Homo sapiens: one gene and its partner. The protein of the gene in region 2 binds, or shares a complex with, the protein of the main gene of each other region. Each region holds a gene or a part of one and is shown on either strand. Other genes may lie near its edges. The genes, in order: GNAS and GPR3. A codon is read from its position in the direction of its gene.

Evidence for each region.
Region 1: the proteins of GPR3 (region 2) and GNAS are in contact, whole or in part, in a cryo-EM structure (PDB 9LYB), measured with the Homo sapiens proteins. Residues at the interface, in NP_005272.1 of Homo sapiens: Met75 (codon at 8,056), Arg134 (codon at 8,233), Ser137 (codon at 8,242), Leu138 (codon at 8,245), Tyr139 (codon at 8,248), Ala141 (codon at 8,254), Leu142 (codon at 8,257), Tyr144 (codon at 8,263), Tyr145 (codon at 8,266), Glu147 (codon at 8,272), Ile216 (codon at 8,479), Ile219 (codon at 8,488), Val220 (codon at 8,491), Arg222 (codon at 8,497), His223 (codon at 8,500), Gln226 (codon at 8,509), Ile227 (codon at 8,512), Leu229 (codon at 8,518), Gln230 (codon at 8,521), Arg231 (codon at 8,524), His232 (codon at 8,527), Lys244 (codon at 8,563), Gly245 (codon at 8,566), Thr248 (codon at 8,575), Arg300 (codon at 8,731); in NP_000507.1 of Homo sapiens: Gln35, Arg38, Ala39, His41, Val217, Phe219, Asp323, Asp343, Leu346, Thr350, Tyr358, Cys359, Phe376, Cys379, Arg380, Asp381, Ile383, Gln384, Arg385, Met386, His387, Leu388, Gln390, Tyr391, Glu392, Leu393, Leu394.

The regions. Positions count from the first base shown.
Region 1 is NC_000020.11:58,894,421-58,902,993, reverse strand, and holds part of GNAS (protein GNAS), read right to left. Parts: intron 7,383-8,573; coding exon 7,310-7,382; intron 4,054-7,309; coding exon 4,009-4,053; intron 3,046-4,008; coding exon of another isoform or gene 3,039-3,045; exon of another isoform or gene 2,999-3,038; coding exon of another isoform or gene 2,964-2,998; exon of another isoform or gene 2,495-2,963; intron 1-2,494. UniProt on the Homo sapiens protein: Guanine nucleotide-binding proteins (G proteins) function as transducers in numerous signaling pathways controlled by G protein-coupled receptors (GPCRs).
Region 2 is NC_000001.11:27,385,966-27,398,693, forward strand, and holds GPR3 (G-protein coupled receptor 3), read left to right. Parts: upstream 1-6,656; 5' UTR 6,657-6,772; intron 6,773-7,828; 5' UTR 7,829-7,833; coding exon 7,834-8,826; 3' UTR 8,827-9,849; downstream 9,850-12,728. UniProt on the Homo sapiens protein: Constitutively active G-protein coupled receptor that maintains high 3'-5'-cyclic adenosine monophosphate (cAMP) levels that a plays a role in serveral processes including meiotic arrest in oocytes or neuronal development via activation of numerous intracellular signaling pathways.

The DNA of each region.
Region 1 (8,573 bases), on a different chromosome or scaffold from region 2:
GAGGCTGAGGCGGGCAGACTGCCTGAGGTCAGGAGTTGGAGACCAGTCTGGCCAACATGGTGAAACCCCGTCTCTACTAAAAACACACAAAAAAACTAGCTGGGCATGGTGGCATGCACCTGTAATCCCAGCTACTAGGGAGGCTGAGGCAGGAGAATTGCTTGAACCCGGGAGGCGGAGGTTGCAGTAAGCTGAGATGGCACCACTGCACTCCAGCCAGGGCGAGAGTGAGACTCTGTCAAAAAAAAAAAAAAAAAAAAAAAAAAAAGTCGTATGTGCGATGCTCCAGGCACTGCAGCTAGCAGCAATGAAACTTCTAGTTCATGATGTTAGTGCATGTTGGTCCATGTGCAATAGGAATCAAATAAGATTCCACCCCCTAGAAGGCCTTATAATCTAAGGGGGAGGGGAGGTCAGATCCCTCTGGTAAGTAGAGGTTGAAGGTTTTGTAGCTTTTCCTTGAGTTTAACTCAGCCACATGGGATGGCCTGCGTGGTCTTTATGGAATGATCTATATTCAGGGTCACTGGTCCCACAGGTAAAGGACACACCCTTTGGCTTCTGGGGACCATAACAGAATGTTAATTTTTGTACCACATTACACTGATCCAAATGCTGTATGTTTTTCAGAAACTAGCCTTCATTAGAAGCACAGCCAGGGAAGGTTCTCGAGTTTATGTTTTTAGAGGGCAAGAAAAGGCCTCTTGTGTGGAGTATGTATCTCATCAGGTCTATAGCCCAAAAATGGAACCAGCACACACAGCACACCTGCTGTACCTGTTAGGCCCTGGGAGGTGAGGGCGTTGTCATGCGGAAAAAAGGTGCTACGGTCCTGCCTCTCTGACAGGGAAACTGAGGCCAAGAGGGGGGGAGTCACCGAGGCAGAAACCAATGGGAGATGGAGGGGACAGAGTTTATCTTTTTCACGGTTTGTATATATATATTTTTTAATCTTTTGAGAGTCCCAGTTTTTGAAGCATTCACTTGGCTGATTCACCAATTCATAGACTGGAGTAGAAATTAAAACATATAATCTCTCCAGACTAGAACACGACAGTTAAGGCAGAGGAAAGGCGAAGGGAGGTTAATTAGCAAGAGCAGACGAGCAGACGAGCAGGGCAGGGCAGTCAGTGGAGCAGCAGGGGTGGGGGGCGGGGACGGACGGTGGGGTCAAGTGCGGGCCTGTCGACAGGCCTTCCACAAATCATTTGGTCTTTCCTTTCTCAAAGAATTATACTTACAAATTTATTCTTTCTGAATAAATGTCTGTGTACTTCTGGGCCTTCACCTGCTGAAGGATCCCATCTCGCCCCCTTCCTACGTGAAGCCCCTTTCACAGGTCACTGCACCACTGCTCTTCTACATTGGGTGAAGAGCTGGGGAAGTTCAGAGGGGCCACGCTCATTAGTGGTGGGGGGTGTCTGGGGTGGGGAGGGGGGACAGATGTTGCCAGGAATCCCCTCAGGGCCATTTAAGTAAAAGTGCTGCAGGTCCGGAGAATCTCAGAAACACAGATGACAGGGAGGTGAGCGAGCTTCAGGCCTTGTGTACAAATCTGAAATCTGATTCTGGCCCCCAGACTCTTAAAGCAACCACCTTAGAGTGAAAGGGAGTGAGTCCTGACCGCTCTGTGCGACTGTCTGCTTTGTATGTGCAGAATCAAAGCTCATTTCTGAAATTAAGAATCCCCGGCCTTGGTATTACAGTCTAACATCGATTATTTAGATGTTATAAATTAAAAGGACATGTGTTTGATGGTCCCCAATGTTCACTTTTGAATTCAGAATTTACCCAAAACCCCCTAGGGCAAATCTATTCCCATTCATTAAAAGCAGGCTCCACTTCACAGGTAATGAAAGCTATTAACCTTTGGTTTTGAGGTTCCACAATAGTAAAATTAAATACATTCGGGTACTAAATATCCAAATCTGCATACAGCAAGAGAAAGTATTTCCAGAAACAAGTTTCTTTCATTCAGTTTGATATTTTGGTCTAAGCAGTAGTATGATAATTGGAAAACTTCCCGTCTTAAAATACGGATATTTTGAGAACGTGTTCAGTATTCATCTACGTATGTGAATAGGTGTGGGAGTATATCAAGTATAAAACAGCTAAAATAGAAATCTAAAATCTAATTCGGGTGTGTAATACTAAAACATAAAATTCTTCCATTGAAGCAATTACTATGTAGATGGAGATATTATACTGGGGGTTGGCGGGTTTATCATCACTTTTACTATTGCTTAATGAATTTAACGTTGATTGTGAAATTCAGAGAAAATTCCTTAGATGTCTTTAAACTACTCAACAAAGGCAAAACATATGCCATTAGCTAGAATTCTGATTCGCTACAAAATTGGGACTAAGGCTGGAAGTACTTTTAGGGTCTTGGTTCCTCCTCCTCCCCCTTCTATGTATACAGCAGATGGGATGCGTTCAGTTTTTAAGAGCTCCTCCCCTCCCCCCGCTTCAGCTAACTAAGTGGTGGGGGAAGCTATTCAGGTCTCCACCTTAATCCTTGTGCTTTGGTGGGAAAAGACAGACAAAGGAAGGAAGACAGAAGACAGACGCGAGATACAGGGATTGCTGAAACATGCAGAGAATTTTTATTTATCACGAATGTTAATACTTATATTGACTTGCAGAACAGAGTGAGAGAGACGTGCAGGCCAAGGTATTAGTAGGGTTCAAGGGTTTAGCAGGACATCTAGTACACAGTAGGTTGCTCACTAAGGACTTGTCATATCTTGCTCAAATGCCAACTTTTGGTACAGCAGATTGTCAATTAGTCATTTCTTATAGAGATGCCTTTTTGGATAGTTGTCATACTACATTTCTGCCAATTAAGGATTTCAGTTCATTTTTCGTTTTTTCAATCATCGTTTAAGGTCAGGTAGCAGGGGCCCCATCCCCCCTCCCCCCTCAGATAACAGAATAGTATTCTTATTAGAAGTTCCTAAGACCGAGCAATTCCAGCATGCAAATTGTGATAGGACATAGCCGGGAAGATGAGAAACTGTAGCCATCATCTAGGGATATTATATTCTAAAAGAAACAGATGAACAAACATGTGTCAGTTACTTTGTCCCCAGACCCCAATATCTTTGCCCCTCCCCTCCCCGGCCACAGAAGCTGTTTCTTTGAGATGCCCTAAACTAAGTCAATGGTTCTGGATGGTCTCATGAGAAATAGCCACTCCACCACTGCATGCTAAATACACAGCAGAGCTAGAGTGGTTACCTGGCATGCGTGTGTGTGTGCGCGGCGCGTGTGGCTGTGTGTGCGTGTGATGTGTGTGCGTGTCTGTGTATGCATGTGCATGTGTGTGCGTGTGTGTGTGTGTGATGGGTGTGGGGATGCAGGAAGCAAAGAAAAAATAATTTGATAATGAATGGAAAAATAAAAGATGCCATCATGAATTTCCTTATCCACCAAGCTAACGTAAAGTGCCTTTGATTCAAATAAATTTGATCATTTTTAAAAGGCCAGAGGCTTTTCGAGATGATTCTTAACGACCTGCTGCAAGGTACCAAGGCGTTTTTCAAAATTAAAGACGGTGCAGCATTGCATATTTTAATAAAGGAAACAAATTTTGTTTCAAAGAGGTCTGAAATTTTAAAATCAGACCAACCAGTGGGTAGATGGAATTTAGTAGATAGTTTTAAAACAAGCAGCTGGTTCAAATGGAGAGCTGGGGGAAAACAGAAACCATATGGAAAAACATCAATTCTCAAAATCCTAAACTGATCATCCAAGGCTGAAATCTATAACTTTCCCCCAGCTGGATCTCATTCTACTTTAAGCATGGCCAAAAAAATTTATGTTACGCACTTTACTTGCTCCAAAATGTCAGGAAATTGTGTGTTATTCACAAATGTATGCCAATATGGCTGATGGTCCTTTAAATGATTTTTATTTTCTTCCCGGGTCTCTGGCCTCAGTTTCCCAGTATGATCTTCATGTTTGTTTGGTTTGTTAACAATTTTTTCTGGTTTTGAATGTGCCTACCCATCGCTGTTGCTCCTTGCAGCCTGCGGGTCCTCTTCGCCGCCCCTTTTAAAGAGAGATTGAAAGCTCACCTAATCTGCAAGGCACCGCAGTGTCACACAAACCCCACACAGTCTCTCTACATTCCTCAACCATCAGCCAAGAGCAAAAGCAACAATTCGCGCGCCAGCCATCCATCCTCCCGGCAATTCTTAGGTCGCCTTTCTGGCTAAATTGGAACATCCACTGAGACTGCAGGCCATGGGGGAAGAATCCCACACCTTTGCTGCAGTATTAACAGAGCTCTCTGGAGACTCTGGTCGGAGACAGGAGGGATGGATAATTGTTTTCTTGTGCTTTCACTAAACGTACACGCATTAGGGAGCTAAAGCAGTGATTTATCTCACAATTCTTTGGAGAATATGGCAGCGCATAAGGCTCCTAATTCTCCCAGGTCAGAATCTTCCCAAGGTTGTAACTTAAGGCATAAAGGCATAAACGGGGGAGATTTCTGCCCAGGATTTCCTGCAAAACTAATGACCTCACTTCTTGCAGTGGAAGGAAACTACCTATAAAATGGTTTTATTTATAAATAATTGTTCCCCATAAATTGTCATTAAACTATGTCTGGACTGTGATGTAGCAAAAAAAATTTCAAAGAACAAAAGCCCACCCACCACCACCACAGAAAAAACAAAAAGAACAAAAGCCCACCCACCACCACCACGGAAAAAAGAAAAAGAAAAAAAAAACCAAAAACCCAAACCCGATCTTCATAAACAGTAGGAATTCCTCCTTGAAGGCCGAAGGGCAGCATTCTACAGTTTGGTAATTGATTAGCTTAGTTCAACCAATGTTAATGGTGTTTATGTTTTGTTTTTGTTTTGTTCCTGGCACTAAATGTAAGAAACAGAGTTAGTTTTGAGTTAGAAAATCCGCATCCAACCTCTGTATTTCTGAAGGTCAAATCAGTATTATCTTACTCTTAAAAATGTAATCAGCATGGCAGCCCGCAGAGAGTTAAGGCAAATTTAATAGCTCAGCCGAGCCCTAACAAAACGCAAGATCAGGGAGGAAGAACCCTGTACCACCCAGACCACCCTTTAGGGACAGATGTCACTGTCTCATAGGGAATTCCTAGTTAAGAAGGAAATAGCTTTTGTTGCAATACCGCAGTGAGGAAAAAGAAAAAAGGAGGCAGTTGGATGAGATAAAAATAAGGTATCTAGGCTCCCATGAGGAATACCCCTGTAAACCCTCTCACAGGCTAAATTTAACGTATCTGTGCCCTTGTCTGCAAAGAAGGCAAACTGGGAATGTTGCTTCCTCTTTCCAAAAAGAAAACAGAAAAGAGAAGTTCTGGTTTAAAACCCTTGCCTGGTGTTACAGGCTGGCTCGCTTAGGGAGGAGAATCCTTTCTATAAAAATTTTTAAATTTTAGGGCAATCTGTAATGAAGCTGTCAGTAATTTATTTCAAAGGTGACTTAGCTTCCATCCGACTCAAGCTAAGGTAAACAGTGGCTGCTGCATCTTTGAAAAATGCTAGCCATGTCCAGTTTTCATCAAAATATTTATCTAGAGGATACATGGTCAAATTATTTTTGCTTAACTACTCTCATGAATAAGTAAGTACTCCTGCAAGTTGCAGGGGGAAAATTTATGCAAGATTTTTCTTCAAATGACAGATTCATGGTTGGAAGTCTGTCTCAGGGTTATTTATTTATTGTCAGGATGGCAGTCTCCGCTGGCAGGGCTTTATCGAGGGGTGTGTCAAGAATTAATTTCGGAATTGGTTGGTGACAAGTGATGCTGACTTACTCAATAGCACGTATGTGCATGTTGATAACCCATTGAGAGTCATAATCAGATGAGTGAAGAAGCCCCCTGTGCATCCCAACCAATCCTTCTGAATTCAGGGTTAAAGTAGAAAAAGCATCCTCAACTAACAGGACTATTCGTATGGGTGATGTCATCCTTCTCTAAACAATTATTTGATCTAACAAATTCTAGAATTCTCTATAAGGAGCTGCCTGCCTTGCTCTGAAAGGTGAAAAAGTTCACCTTTGTTTCCTGGATGCTTAGTGACTAGTAAAGGTTTTTTTGTTTGTTTTGTTTGTTTTTTTGGGGGGTGGTTGGTATAATTAAACGCTACCACCTTGACTCCAACTCCCCTTTTGAAATGGAAGCTGAAGCAACTCAAGGTTAAATTTTCAATCGAATCCAAGTTTAAGAAAGGGAACAGGACTGTGCCAACCAGCTAGTAATTACAAACTAGTGCCTTCAGGTGCTTGAAATCTAGTGCGGTTAATGCTCTCATACCAGTGAAAACAGACTGGTCAACTTAGTTTTTTTGTTTTGTTTTTTCTTTTTCTTTTTTTTTTTTTACACGTTTTGTTACACGAGAACGATGGGTAGGCCCCATCTGGGGTCTTGGGGAGAAAAGCAAGTTCCCCGATTTATTGAATGTTCCCTGTTTGCATTCCCCATGCCAGGCAGGGCTTCCTAACTCGTCTCACAGGTCTAATACAAAGTCTCTCCTGTTTAATCTTCATTCCCACTACGGATTGCCACATTGTGCTATACCAGGATACCTGGGAGGACTTCTCAAAGGCAAAAATGCCCCTCAGTGAGGCTGGGAGTGCCTAACTCCCAGTCTTTCCATCCTTTAAATAAATGTTCCCTCTTCTTTTCTGTAGGCAGGGGTACTGATTTGTTTTTTGTTTTAAAGGGAAACAATGATTTACCCATAATGGTAATTTAAAGGGGGACAAAAAAAATGAGAAACTGTAAACACGGGCTGCCACTTCCACATCTGTTTCTGGTGAGAATATTATGGAAACAATGTTTCCCTAATAGTTTAAAACATCCTGTGTTGGTTCATTACATTGAAATCTGCGTGAGGTGGGGTGGGGTGAATTTGCAGTGATCAGCGTGGGCCGGACGAGGGGGCGGCCAAAGCCACGTTGAAGACACTGCAGTGATGTCCGAAGACTGTGGCAGGGACCTGGCCCGGAGAGGGGCTGTCACGGGGCCAAGTGCTGTCAAGCGTCCCCTGCAACCAGGCACGATTTTCTTGGGATAGGGAGATGTTTGTCACAAACACTGGTGCTTTCATCAGTAGTATTTGTTGCACCAAAGATCCAAGGGGGTGGGGGGTGAGGGACCCTAAAGAGCCCTTCCCAGGATTTTCTAATATGTAAATCAGGAAAAATTAAGTGAAAACTGGCTGCCCAGCCCCCAAAGCCCACCTATACTTCCTAAAGGTTAGTATAAAGTCTGTTCCTCTTACTTGGTGCCCCCCTGCACAGATTTGACACTTACTCTCCATTAAACCCATTAACATGCAGGATCCTCATCTGCTTCACAATGGTGCTTTTACCAGATTCTCCAGCACCTAGAAAATGAAAGTAAGTCTCAGGTTATGAAGGAGGCATTTTAACACTTTGGGCAGGGAGGTCTGCTGTTGTTGTTTTGTTTTTCCATAGAAGCAACATGCAAAAAACCAAACACAAAATCACAGACTTGCAACTTTCCTTGACATTTCGACGCAGAGAAAAGGAAATCAATGTCCAATTCAGTGTCTACCTGCAGTATTTCACCATCCAAATAACAAACAAGAATTTAAGGTTTGCTGGTTTTAATTTTTCTTTTGATTGTTTAAAAAATTGTGGGGTGGTGTTGGAAAGGGGCAAAGAGAAGGAATGACGCAATTTTGTCATTTGTGGGGTAAACAAGAAAATTGAAGTTAAAACTGTGAAACTGAATCCCTGATACATGAACATTCACACATAAACATATCTAGACACATAATTTGTTGTCAGATGTTTCATGGTTAAAATACCCGGGATTCCCAACAATGCCCAGACACTGCAGTCTCTTCCACATCACGTAGCGATGCAGCACTTTCCTCCTCAACATTTTCACAACGCAGCTTCTTTCTGTGCAGGTTTCCTACCCCTTGGGCTACTTAAAAATCCACCCCTAAAACTGCATTACATTTTATCCACTTATCCATCCTCCTCTTTCCTCACAAACTATATCTTTCTAAAGATAAATTCCCTCTGGGTACAACTATGTTGCTGAGGAAAAGGGGAGACCATCAATTATCTGTCATCTTCTGGAAAAACCACACTTTAACATCAAATACAGTTCCTGAGACCCTATTAGCATTAGGTAAACTGCAAAAACAACAGTAAAAAGTAACATAAGAACAAAACTTTAATCAAAAGGAAAACTATCCCTGGGAAGTACTGAATTTGAAAGATTCCAAGCCCTTCCCAACTCAAAGAGTAGAAACACATGCCTCCATTTTAAATCATCTTTCATTTGTAAAAATACATATATGTTTCATGGAAAAAACACATTTCCATCAAGCTAGAGGGAGGATTGCTATTTTGCATCTTTTTTGCAATGCACATTCTCCAACAGATAATCCACGTGTGAAGTTTTTTTGCCCTCCTTCCACACAAATCTGTTATTACCTTTTTCTTTCTTTTTAACTTTTAATTGTATTGTTTTGTTTTAATGCCCAGATAGCACAGCATTCCTCCTTTACTTGCCTTTTCACAAGCCCGTAATCAATATC
Region 2 (12,728 bases):
CAACTAGCTGGGATTACAGGCATGTGCCACCACGCCCAGCTAGTTTTGTATTTTCAGTAGAGACAGGGTTTCACCATGTTGGTCAGGCTGGTCTCGAACTCCTGACCTCAGGTGATCTGCCTGCCTCGGCCTCCCAAAGTGCTGGGATTACAGGCGTGAGCCACCGTGCCCGGCCAGTTTCGAACTTTTGACCTCAAATGATTCACCCACCTTGACCTCCCAAAGTGCTGGGATTACAGGTGTGAGCCACCATGCCTGGCCCCACCTAACAACTTTTCAACAATGGCTTGACCTCCACAACCCTTTGATTTCTGGCTCTAGAAGTCTCTCTATCCTGGCCTGGGTGCTTCCCATCACCTTCCTACCCTCTAAGAAGATAGAACAGAGCCTTCCCCCTATACCTCTCTTCCTCTATCCTAGCTGTTCTCTCTCCTAGAGGGTCCTCCTCAACCTTGGACTTCATTTGCCTGGCAAACTAATTCTTCAAGACACCACTACAAGACCACCTCCTGCAGGAAGCCTTCTGTGACTGTCACAGAATGAGGCTGAGCTGCTGCAGCACTTAGCTAGAGATCTAAATCCATCTGCTTTTTCCACTTCAGAGCCCTCCCCATCTCTTGCCTGAATGACTGCAGTGGCCTTCTAGTGGGGCTCCTGCTCCCCATTCCAGTCTGTTCTGCACTCAGCAGTCAGAGTGACCCTTTGATAACGTGTCAGTTCAGATCATAACACTTCCCTCCCACCAATGGCGTCTGTCTCACTGATCTGGGATTTCAGGCGCCCGCTGCCACACCTGGCTAATTTTTTGTATTTTTAATAGAGACGGGGTTTCATCATATTGACCAGGCTGGTCTCGAACTCCTGACCTCAGGTGATCCACCCGTCTTGGCCTCCCAAAGTGCAGGAATTACAGGCATGAGCCGCTGTGCCCAGCCAGATGTTTATTAAGTAACCTTACTGTACCATGTTGTGACAATCTGTGTACATGTTTGTCTGTCCCACCGGTCTGTAAGCCCCCAAGAGCTCCCTTCTGTCTCACATGATCTTGCCTCTGCCCACCTCGCCTCTCCTCCCTCTCCCCTTTGCTGATTTAGCTGCAGACACACTAGCCTCCTCTCTCTGGTCCTCACACCCATCAATGCTTTCTCTTCTTGGGGACTTTACACTTGTCGTGTCCTCTCCTTAAGACTCCTGTTCTCTCTTCACGTGACTTGTTCCATGACCTCCCTCCCTAAAAGAGGCCACCTGGTGATCCTACATCCCAACAGCTGCTCTTTTCTTCAGAGCAGGTAGCTAATGTATAATTAATTACTCATTTGTTTCCTAGGCTGTAAGCTTCATGAAGGCAGGAACCATGTTGATCTTCCCTCCTTAGTGAACTCCTTGCACACAGTAAGGGCTGAATAGATGTTGGGGTTTTTGTTTGTTTGTTTGTTGAGACGGAGTTTCGCTCTTGCTGCCCAGACTGGAGTGCAGTGGTGATCTCGGCTCACTGCAACCTCCGCCTCCCAGATTCAAGTGATTCTCCTGCCTCAGCCTCCTGAGTAGCTGGGATTACAGGTGCCTGCCACTATGCCTGGCTAATTTTTTGCATTTGTGGTAGAGACAGGATTTCATCACGTTGGCCAGGCTGGTCTCGAACGCCTGACCTCAGGTGATCCACCCACCTCGGCCTCCCAAAGTGCAGGAATTATGGGCGTGAGCCACCATGCCCAGCCAGATGTTTATTAAGTAACCTTACTTACTATGCCATGTTGTGACCATCTGTGTACATGTTTGTCCCACTGGTCTGTGAGGCCCCCAAGAGCTCCCTACTTGAATAGATTTTAAGGATCTATTTGTAGATTGTCCATCCCTCCAGATTAAAACTGAAGCTTGGCCTGGCACAGTGGCTCATGCCTGTAATCCCAGCACTTTGGGAGGCCGAGGTGGGCAGGTCACCTAAGGCCAGGAGTTCGAGACCAGCCTGGCCAACATGGTGAAACCCTGTCTTTACTAAAAAATACAAAAATTAGCCAGGCGTGGTGGCATGCATCTGTAGTCCCAGCTACTCGGGAGGCTGAGGCAGGAGAATCGCTTGAACCCGGGAGGCGGAGGTTGCAGTGAGCTGAGATTGCACCACTGCACTCCAGCCTGGGCAACAGAGCAAGACTATGTCTCAAAATAACTAACTAAATAAATTAATTAATAAAACTGAAGCTCATTGAAGATGGCAGGGATTTTTGTTCACTGCTGTATTCTCTGTACCCGGGAAATAGAAGATGCTCAATAAATGTGTCTATTGACTGTTGAAAAGGCAGGAATTTGGCCAGATCATCTTTCTGTCCCTAGCACCCACTGAACAAACCCTAAGCCCAGGGGAACTGCCAGTAAATAATGGCTGAATGAATGGGTCTATGCTAAGAATATGGGCACTGATGATGCCTAGACCCTTGGGTCTTAGACAAGGGACTCAGGTGTGGGGATTATCTATGACTGACACACACACACACACACAAGCACACACGCACGAACACCCCCTCCCCGCCAATTCCTCCCTCCCCAAGGGATTTCTCCAACTGGTGAAGACAGAAGAGGCAAGGATAAAAGTCTCACCTGGAAGTGAGTCCTCACAGCCATCTGGTGGCCACCTGGAGAACTGCAGGTATTGTCAGCCCTAGTCAAACTTTAGCCTCAGCCCCTTCTGGGAAGAAGGTGACATCTAGGCCAGAATGGAAGGCACACTGGACTTGGTGACAGATGGACCTGGCTTCAGATCCCAGCTCTGCCATTTACTATGTGATTTGGGGCAAGTCCCTTGGCTTTCCTGGGCTTCACCCAAGAAATGGAGACATGGTCCCTCACTTTTGCAGGTTGTTGTAAGCCTTGGGCTCTGGCTGGGCACCTGGTAGGTGGGAAGGGTTGGAGGAGGTGTCAAGGAGGTAGGGACAGAGGGCATGAGGAGAATAGGAGAGAAGGAACTATCTCTTCCTTTAGAGAGCAAGTATGCGGGGAATGGAGACCTGATTGGTATGAGCACTTTTGGTGCGTGAGGGAGAGCACATGAGGTTCACGTGAAAACCCATAGCCCCCCTTTAGTCTCTTGGCTCTCCTGGGTTTCTCGGGGTTAGAAATGTCACTGCATGCCGGGTGCGGTGGTTCATACCTGTAATCCCAGCACTTTGGGAGGCTGAGCAGGGTGGATCACCTGAGGTCAGGAGTTCAAGACCATCCTGACCAATATGGTAAAACCCTGTCTCTACTAAAAATACAAAAAAAAAAAAAAAAAAAAAAGCTGGGCATGGTGGCGGGCACCTGTAATCCCAGCTACTTGGGAGGCTGAGGCAGGAGAATCGCTTGAACCCAGGAGGCAGAGGTTTCAGTGAGCCGAGATTGCACCACTGCACTCCAGCCTGGGCAACAAGAATAAAACTGTCTCGGAAAAAAAAAAAAAAGGAAAGAAAAGAAATGTCACTGCACTCTCTTTTCCTCTCTGGCTGCCTTAGGATCAACTTCCCTTGCAAACAACAGGATAACTATCAGGATCAGGAAGTTCATGACCAATACTTCAGTGGAAATGATGGTCTTCCGTGTCCTTCACCCTGGGAAGACAACAATACCTAAGACAGAAAACTAGTCAAAAAGTAGAAGACCACTCTGGATTTCATCTTTGTATTTAGAACCCATTTTGGGCTGGGCACAGTGGCTCATGCCTGTAATCCCAGCACTTTGGGAGGCCAAGGTGGGCAGATCACTTGAACCTACGAGTTCAAGACCAGCCTGGGCAATGTGGCGAAACCCTGTCTCTACAAAAATTACACGCCTTAGCCAGGCGTGGTGACACGTGCTTGTAATCCCAGTTACTGTGGAGGCTGAGATGGGAGGATTGCTTGAGTCCAAGAGGTTGAGGCTACAGTGAGCATTGATTGCACCACTACACTCCAGCCTGGGTGACAGACTGAGATCCTGTCTCAAAAAACAAACAAACGAAAAAAAAAGACAGAACCCATTTTGGTGGTGTTAAGACAACTGGCTTGGTTATGATTTATGATTCCTTGGATTATGCAAAGAAAAATTAATCCAAACACAGACTTGCAAGACATAAAAGAAAAAGACCTCAAGAAAACAGCTAAAGGAACTCAAGAACAGAATGACGACAGCCAGGGAGTCACAAGAGTGTGGTGCTGGTGCTGGCAAACAGGAATGGCTTTATCTGCAGCAATGGTGAAGATTTTTCACCAGAGGATCAATAAGCTACGAAAACTTAAAAAATATATAATTGCCATTCAGAGTAGTAGAAGATAGTCCCTGATACCCCCCTTTGATGCCAACCTCCCAGCAGCCTTCACCCATCGCAGAGACCAGAACTCTGTAGGGACCCAGCTCTGATGGGGGAGTAAATGGATCCCTGACCCTGAGTCTTGGGGCCCTGATGCCCTTGGATCCTCTCTCTGACACCCCCACCTTCCTGGGCACCAGGCATATTACTATTCTCTCTGTTTTCCTTTTTTCCTCTGGTTGTTCCCTTTTAGGTCAATCATCCAGTCCATGATTATTTCTTCAATACCCATTACATATCAGGCACTGTTCTCTAGCAGAAATGGGACATAGTCAGTATCCTCTTGGAGCTTAGATTCTAGTGGGGCTGACATGTAGTAAAACAAACAAACATGAATTCATTTATAATTTCAAGAGTGCTTCATCCTCCAAAAATGAATAAATCAAGAGAAGGGGAGGGAGAGTGATGGGGAGGCCAGTGGCGATCTGAGAGTTCAGAGCAGCCTGTTTCAGAAGTAATTCGGGAGCAGAGACCTGGATGAAGAGAAGGGTTGTTGTCAGAGGGGTCAGGTGCAAGAGCCCAGGAGGAGGAGCCCCTGAAGCCACTCCTCACTCTCTGCTCCCGCCCCTGGGTGACATTATTTACCCCTAAAACATCAGTTGCCACCTGCATGCCTACACCTCCCAGGTGTCCCTCATTATCCAGCTGTAACATTGATGGCCAATGGCAAGTAGAACCCACTCAACAACCCCATGAGGCCGGTACTAATATTATCCCTGTGTTTTAGATGAGGAAATAGGCACAGAGAGCTGAAGAAACTCTCCAAAGTCACCCAGCTAGGAAATGGAGAAACTGAGATTGGACACTTCCACCCCCTAAGCCCCCTAAACTCACCACATCCAACCTGAAATGAATCCTCTTCTCCAGCTCCGACCCCCTCCTCCTCCCATGTTCCCTGCCACTTGACCTTCTGCTGCCTCACACTCAAACCCAAAACCTGCCTGGTGGAGGCTGACCATGGGGGCTGCAGTGATGGTGCTGTGATGGGGGTGTCCAGTGGGGCCTGGGATCCTCAGGCCTCTTAACCTCATCTTCCCCTCCCACAGGCCTGCATGATTCCAGGGAGCATCAAGGCAAGAGACACAGGGAGAAGGAGCAGCCAGTCCCCCTGCCGCAGGACTGGCCACATCTGTCACATCTGGAGAAGTCTGCCCAGAGTGGTTCCCCTGGACTAAGGGCAGATGGCGTTGGGGAAGAGGGAGCTCTTTCTCCTTGCTCCACCCATCAGGATGCCTAAAATAGGAGGCTGAGAGGGGCCTGCCCTGAGGACTGAGCTGCCAGGCTTTCTGCTTCCAAGTTCTTCCCGGCTCCCCATCTCCTCCTGCTTCAGGGAAGTGCACCCCTCACCCCCTCCACGCTGGCTTTCTAGATACTGGAATAAATAATTCAGGTTTTGAAATCTTGCCAGGCCCACCCCTCCGGTGCTGTGAGGGCGCTATTGGGCTGACATGAGTGACGTCACCCAGCTCTTATCCCAGCCCCGGCATCACGGGACTTGCCCTGGCAGCAACTTACCTGCCTGGTCACTGTCAGTCCAGACCCTCTACCCTGTGCCCCTCACCCTGGAGCCCACTCACCACAGCCACCTGCTATCTTCGTTCCAGGGCCCCACAGTCCTCATGGCTTAGCATTGTCGCTTCAGTACCCCAGCCATTCTGACAGGGTAATGGTGACCTGAAGTCACCTGGACACTCCATGTTCCCAGGCCGCTGCCTCTGCCATCCCGGGGTCCCTGAACTCCCCCCTGCTGCATAGTCACCCTGACACTGCCATGGTTGCCCTGAGGGCTTCCCCTCTACCGTTAGCGTCCCACGGCCATCACCCCCCACCCCAAGATTCTGTCACCATGCTAATGTCGTCACTGCCACCCACCTCCCCGCTCCCTCGTGCTCCCTGTCATCGTCACCTCAGGGCCCCATCATCTTGGAAACCCTGTCATTCTCACCAGGGAAGCCCAACCAGCCCCATCACAAGCTCTTCCTTCGTCACCTGGATCTCGTCAGCCTCTCTGCCACCCAAGGGTCCCATCACCCCACAGCCTAGCCGGGCCCCCTTTCCACTCTTCCACCACGTTCCCTGCAGCCTCTCTGAGACTTCAAGGCTCTCGCACCGGCGCCTCTGAAACCCCCGGCCCGCAGAGGGCGCCGCGTCAAGGACAGCGCGGGCGGACTCGGGAGGGGGCGGGGCCGCAGCCACGGTCGCTTTTTATGAATGGGGGAGCGGGCGGTGCGAGGCCTTATTACTATGCCGCGCAACGCGCGCTGCGCCCCAGCGCGCCGCGCCCATTGGCTGATCGGACCGCTGACGTCACCGAACCGGTGGCCGGGGGCGGGGCGGGGTGACTCACGCCGCTTCTCCCGCGGCCGCGGGGGCTTCTCGGGGTCCACGCACGCCCTGCGCCGCCAGGACCCGAGCGGAGCCTCCCCGCGGCCCGGCCGCGCCTGGTCCTGAGCGGTGAGTAGCGGGCCCCGCCGCGGGCACCAGGGGTCCTGAAGGGCACGCAGGATGCTGGGGCACTGGGCCGGCGGAAGGCTCCTAGTGGCCGGCCGGGGTTCGAGTTCGAGGTGGGAATTCTGGGTTTAGGCGATTCTGGGTTAGCAGGCTTGGGCCCAAGTGCTCGAGTGCTGGGGTTGAGTTGGATGACCCGGCGAAGGGTAAGCATTCCTGCAGGGACCCGAGGCCCTGGAGGGACTGATGGTCATCTGAGGTTAAGCCGGCAGGAGGCGTCTGGGGCAGGGACCCAGGGGTCCGAACAGCAGGAGGTGTCCAATTTAGGAATCCAGGTATCCAGGCAGGAGGCAGAGTCAGGCCCAAAATCCAGGTGTCCGGGCAGAAGGAGGCATCTGACTCAGGGATCCAGTCTTCCAGCAGGGGGGTCTGCCCAGAGACCTAGAGATTCAGGCGGAAAGAAGGGTCCAGCCAGGAACAGAAGTCTGGGAGGGTGGGGGGTGGGGGGCTGAGTTCCCAGGTGTTACCGCGGGAGTGCGGGGTGATGGCTGGCGGGAGCTTCACGCGCATTCCCTGGGGGCGGAGTCTAAGGCTGGCAGTACTGAAAATCGTGAGGGGTCTGGGAGCCTCAGGCACGAGCTAGCATCATCATCTCTGATGGGAGGGAGCGGAGCTGCTCAGTCTCCCTGATGGGGTAGATGTTTCCCTACCCCAATCTTGAGCCTTCGGGGGCATCCCCTGGATCCTATGGCCCTCTTCCACTTATAGTACCCCTTCTTCTGTCTCTCCTCTGGTCACACACGTGGGAAAAAGAGACCTGCAGGACCTAGGACAGGGATCCCCAGGAAGAGACCCCTGTTTAGAGGCCTGGGGGCATTGGAGGGGACAGCGGTATCCTGGGAAGAGCCCCAGGGCATGAATGTGGGGATAAGGCATTGGGACCCTATCAGGTATCCTGAGGAGAGACTCCCACCACGTATCCTGAGAAGCACCTCACCCCCTCCAGACCCCAACTCCCATCACCCAGCTTGGTCAGCTTCTCACAAGGCCTTTCTCCTGCAGGTACCATGATGTGGGGTGCAGGCAGCCCTCTGGCCTGGCTCTCAGCTGGCTCAGGCAACGTGAATGTAAGCAGCGTGGGCCCAGCAGAGGGGCCCACAGGTCCAGCCGCACCACTGCCCTCGCCTAAGGCCTGGGATGTGGTGCTCTGCATCTCAGGCACCCTGGTGTCCTGCGAGAATGCGCTAGTGGTGGCCATCATCGTGGGCACTCCTGCCTTCCGTGCCCCCATGTTCCTGCTGGTGGGCAGCCTGGCCGTGGCAGACCTGCTGGCAGGCCTGGGCCTGGTCCTGCACTTTGCTGCTGTCTTCTGCATCGGCTCAGCGGAGATGAGCCTGGTGCTGGTTGGCGTGCTGGCAATGGCCTTTACCGCCAGCATCGGCAGTCTACTGGCCATCACTGTCGACCGCTACCTTTCTCTGTACAATGCCCTCACCTACTATTCAGAGACAACAGTGACACGGACCTATGTGATGCTGGCCTTAGTGTGGGGAGGTGCCCTGGGCCTGGGGCTGCTGCCTGTGCTGGCCTGGAACTGCCTGGATGGCCTGACCACATGTGGCGTGGTTTATCCACTCTCCAAGAACCATCTGGTAGTTCTGGCCATTGCCTTCTTCATGGTGTTTGGCATCATGCTGCAGCTCTACGCCCAAATCTGCCGCATCGTCTGCCGCCATGCCCAGCAGATTGCCCTTCAGCGGCACCTGCTGCCTGCCTCCCACTATGTGGCCACCCGCAAGGGCATTGCCACACTGGCCGTGGTGCTTGGAGCCTTTGCCGCCTGCTGGTTGCCCTTCACTGTCTACTGCCTGCTGGGTGATGCCCACTCTCCACCTCTCTACACCTATCTTACCTTGCTCCCTGCCACCTACAACTCCATGATCAACCCTATCATCTACGCCTTCCGCAACCAGGATGTGCAGAAAGTGCTGTGGGCTGTCTGCTGCTGCTGTTCCTCTTCCAAGATCCCCTTCCGATCCCGCTCCCCCAGTGATGTCTAGCTGAGTCTTCATGACCCTTCAACCCTGATTACTACAGAATTCCAGAATGTTAGGCTCTCCAGGGCTTCTTTCCAAACCCCCAGCTCCACACCCCCCAGACCCAGCTGGTTCTGGAGTTCTAGGACATTGGGTGTTTCAAGGTTCTGTTCAGATCCCTATGGGGGCCCAGCTGGCTCCACGGTTCCAGAATGTTCAGGTGGTCAGTGTTCTACTCAGAAATGTCTCACAGCCCAGCTGGGTTGCAATTCCAGAATGCTGGGAGTTTTACAGTGCCATTCCAAGTCCCAGATGTCCCTCTTCCCCCAAACTTGACCTTGACCATGTCACTTTATGTTTGAATTTCTGAGCTAAAGAGTCAGAGAGATTAGTCACATAGTTGCCTAAATAGGAGAGAGAAAGATTATATATGCACATATACAAAGACAGTGTCTATTTATGATTGATTTATTTATTTATAAATTTACTTATGGGTGGTAAGGGGCAAAAAAGAGGCCCACACCTTGATATCCAGGCCATACCAGGGTATCCCTTGTCCCTTCACCCCCATTTCTGACCTCAGTTCCTGGAGGGGGGAAAGGGTGAAAGAGAAACCACGTATTTTGTTATTATTTTGGATTATTTTTTATCGAAGAGATCATAGAAACCAGAGCCTTCTCCCCAGGCCTGCCCTCCTCGGGTTTGGAAGGGGAACACACCAGCCTCTGGTTTTTTATTTTTTTAAGAAGCCATCACCTGAGCAACCAAAAATTCCTCTGCGCTGGGGTCCGACTGCCCTCTGGTGGCCATTTGGGGAAAACTGCAGCCCGGCCAGGCAGCTGGGACCAGAATGCAACCCCAGCTCCACTCCAGCCTGGCGTCCAGGGCCACAGCCATGGCCTGGGGGCCAAGCCTCACCCTGCGGTGCCCTAAAGGAGGGGGGGCACGAGCCAACACCCCACCCCTCTGCCAACCGGGGTATGGCCCCCAGTGCATTCCCTGTTCCCGTCTCCAACCCAACTCAATAAAAAATGATTTTGTCATAAATATGTTTCCCTATGTGTGTGTGGAGGGTATGGAGTGGGGCCTGATGGGGGATGGCCTGGAATGAGAGGGTCAAGCCAGGCCTGGGGGGCCTGTTGGGGGATCTGGGGAGCTGGACAGAGGGTGGAGGGTGGCTGGCAGGTGACTCCTTCTCAGATGTCAGTGCCCCTCTGCTCAGACCTGGGCACTGACTGGCAAGGACCTTACCTCCTCCTGGTGACAGGAACCTGGGTGCTTGGCTCTTCCTGGGTCAAGGATGCTCACATCCTGCCCACACCGGCCACTGTGGGGCTTAGACATGATGAATATGCTCAAAGCATGTCAGTTTCCTTAATAATAATAGGTCCTACTTTTTTTTTTTTTTTTTTTTTTTTTGAGACAGAGTCTCGCTCTGTCCCCCAGGCTGGAGTGCAGTGGCGTGATCTCGGCTCACTGCAAGCTCCACCTCCCGGGTTCACGCCATTCTCCTGCCTCAGCCTCCCGAGTAGCTGGGACTACAGGCGCCCACCATCACGCCCGGCTAATTTTTTTTGTATTTTTAGTAGAGACGGGGTTTCACTGTGTAAGCCAGGATGGTCTCGATCTCCTGACCTCGTGATCCACCCGTCTCAGCCTCCCAAAGTGCTGGGATTACAGGCGTGAGCCAACGCGTCTGGCCAATAATAGGTCCTTCTAATCATGGGTGCCTACTGTGTGTCTGGCACACATGCTACCTCGCTTATGCCTAATAAGCATCCCATGGCACCGGTAGTGTCTTCTCCATTTTACAAACGAGGGAGCTGAGGCTGAGTGAGGGACAGCAGCTGGCCCAAGGCCATACAGCTAAAAAATGGTAGAGCCAGGAACATCTGTTTCCAGAATCTGTGCTGTGTAGTGAGTGATTTCCTTCCTTCCCAAGCCTGGAGCTTAGGACATTCTGGACCCTGATTTTTTTTTTTTTTTTTTTTTGAGACAGAGTCTTGCTCTGTTGCCCAGACTGGAGTGCAATAGCGTGGTCTCGGCTCACTGCAACCTCCGCCTCCTGGGTTCAAGCGATTCTCCTGCCTCAGCTTCCCAAGTAGCTGGGATTACAGGCACCTGCCACCACGCCTGGCTAATTTTTGTATTTTTAGTAGAGACTGGGGTTTCACCATGCTGGCCAGGCTGGTCTCGAACTCCCGACCTCAGGTGATCCGTCCGCCTCAGCCTCCCAAAGTGCTGGGATTACAGGCGTGAGCCACCGCACCCAGCTGGACCCTGATTTATTTTGGGGTTCATTTTTAGGGCCACATTTGGGAAGTGGTCGGAGGGGGTCTGGTCATTTTGGAGTCAGAAGAGCTTTTCTACGCAAAGGTGAGTGACTATCAGTGTGTGCCTTTGGGGACATATGTGTGCAGGACCCAGAGTTTGGGTACTTGAGGAGAGGAAGCTGACCCCAGAAAGAATGTGTCTATCAGGCCAGGGCAGCAGCAGGTTTGGGGTGTGGCTGAAGAGGAAGCTTTGATTGGCCAAGCCTCCCAGCTTCCCAAGCCTTATTTTTGGGCAAAGCTTGGAGGTGGGGCTCTTGGAGCATTTCTGGCTCACCCCTCCACATACAGACAGGAGCCCGAGGCCCAAAGAGGAGCAACCATTTGCTCAAACTCGCACAGCTGTGCCAGGCTAGGACACAGGCCTTTCTCCATTTCCCTGGCAGAGTTAGAGCCCTTTTGTCTGGTGTAAAGATCCCTCCCTTGGCCAGGTGTGGTGGCTTACGCCCGTAATCCCAGCACTTTGGGAGGCCGAGGCGGGCAGATCACCTGAGTCAGGAGTTCGAGACCAGCCTGGTCAACATGATGAAACCCTGTCTCTACTAAAAATACAAAAAATTAGCCGGATGTGGAGCCTATAATCCCAGCTACTTGGGAGGCTGAGTCAGGAGAATCGCTTGAGCCCGGGAGGCAGAGGTTGCAGTGAGCTGTGAGCCAAGATCGCGCCATTGCACTCCAGCCTGGGCAACAGAGTGAGATTCCGTCCCCACCCCCCAACCAAAAAAATCCCTCCCAGTAGTCTGAGGAGAGTCGTCATGCCAATAGGCCCAGGCACAAAGCAGGGAGGCCGCACCAGGTCAGGCCAAGCTTTATTCTATCCCCACCCTCCTGACAGGTCCCTGGGAAAAGTCCCTACTCAGCAGGCCCCTCCCCCACGCCAAACATTCCATACCATCACCGTGGCTTTGTCAAATGGGTACCATTGCTCCTCCCCATTTTACAAAAGAAGAAGTTGAGGCTCCAAGAGTAATGGGCCTTCATTCATTCACTGCTGTCCTTGTGGACAGCTTAAATTCTAGCTGGGGGAAATAGTAATACAAAGTTTTTCCCAAAATGTAATATTACACAGTGGTAAGTCCTCAGAGAAAGAGCAGGGGAAGAAGGATGGGGAGGGTGTGAGTAATTTTTAAATTAGGGTGCCCAGGAAAAGCCTCCCTGAGAGGTGACATTGGATTGGTCCAAAGTCAGAGGGTTGGTAAGGAGTTGAGCTGGGATTTGAACCCAGGCCCATTTGACTCTAAATCTCTTTCTTTCCTGGATGAGGGAGCGTGTTTCAGGAACAACCCAGAAACATCAAGCAAGGAAACTGGGGTAAATCCCCAGGCTGGGGGAAAGCAGGGGGTCTCCAGGTTAAACCCAGACCTCTGGAGGCACAGCACAGGGCAGGGCCTTGTTGCTGCCTCCACCATCATGCTCCTGAGGAGCCCCACCAAGGTCCAGAGGAGAGAGGCCAGGTGCCCGTCCTACCCTGGGTGAGTCTCAGCCCTTTGCTTCCCCAGCCCAGCTTCCAGCTCCAGGGCCCAAGAAGGGACCTGCCGCCATCCTTGTGTCTGGGAGGGCCTGTGTCGGGCCCCTGCACTGAGGGGCTTCCTCTGT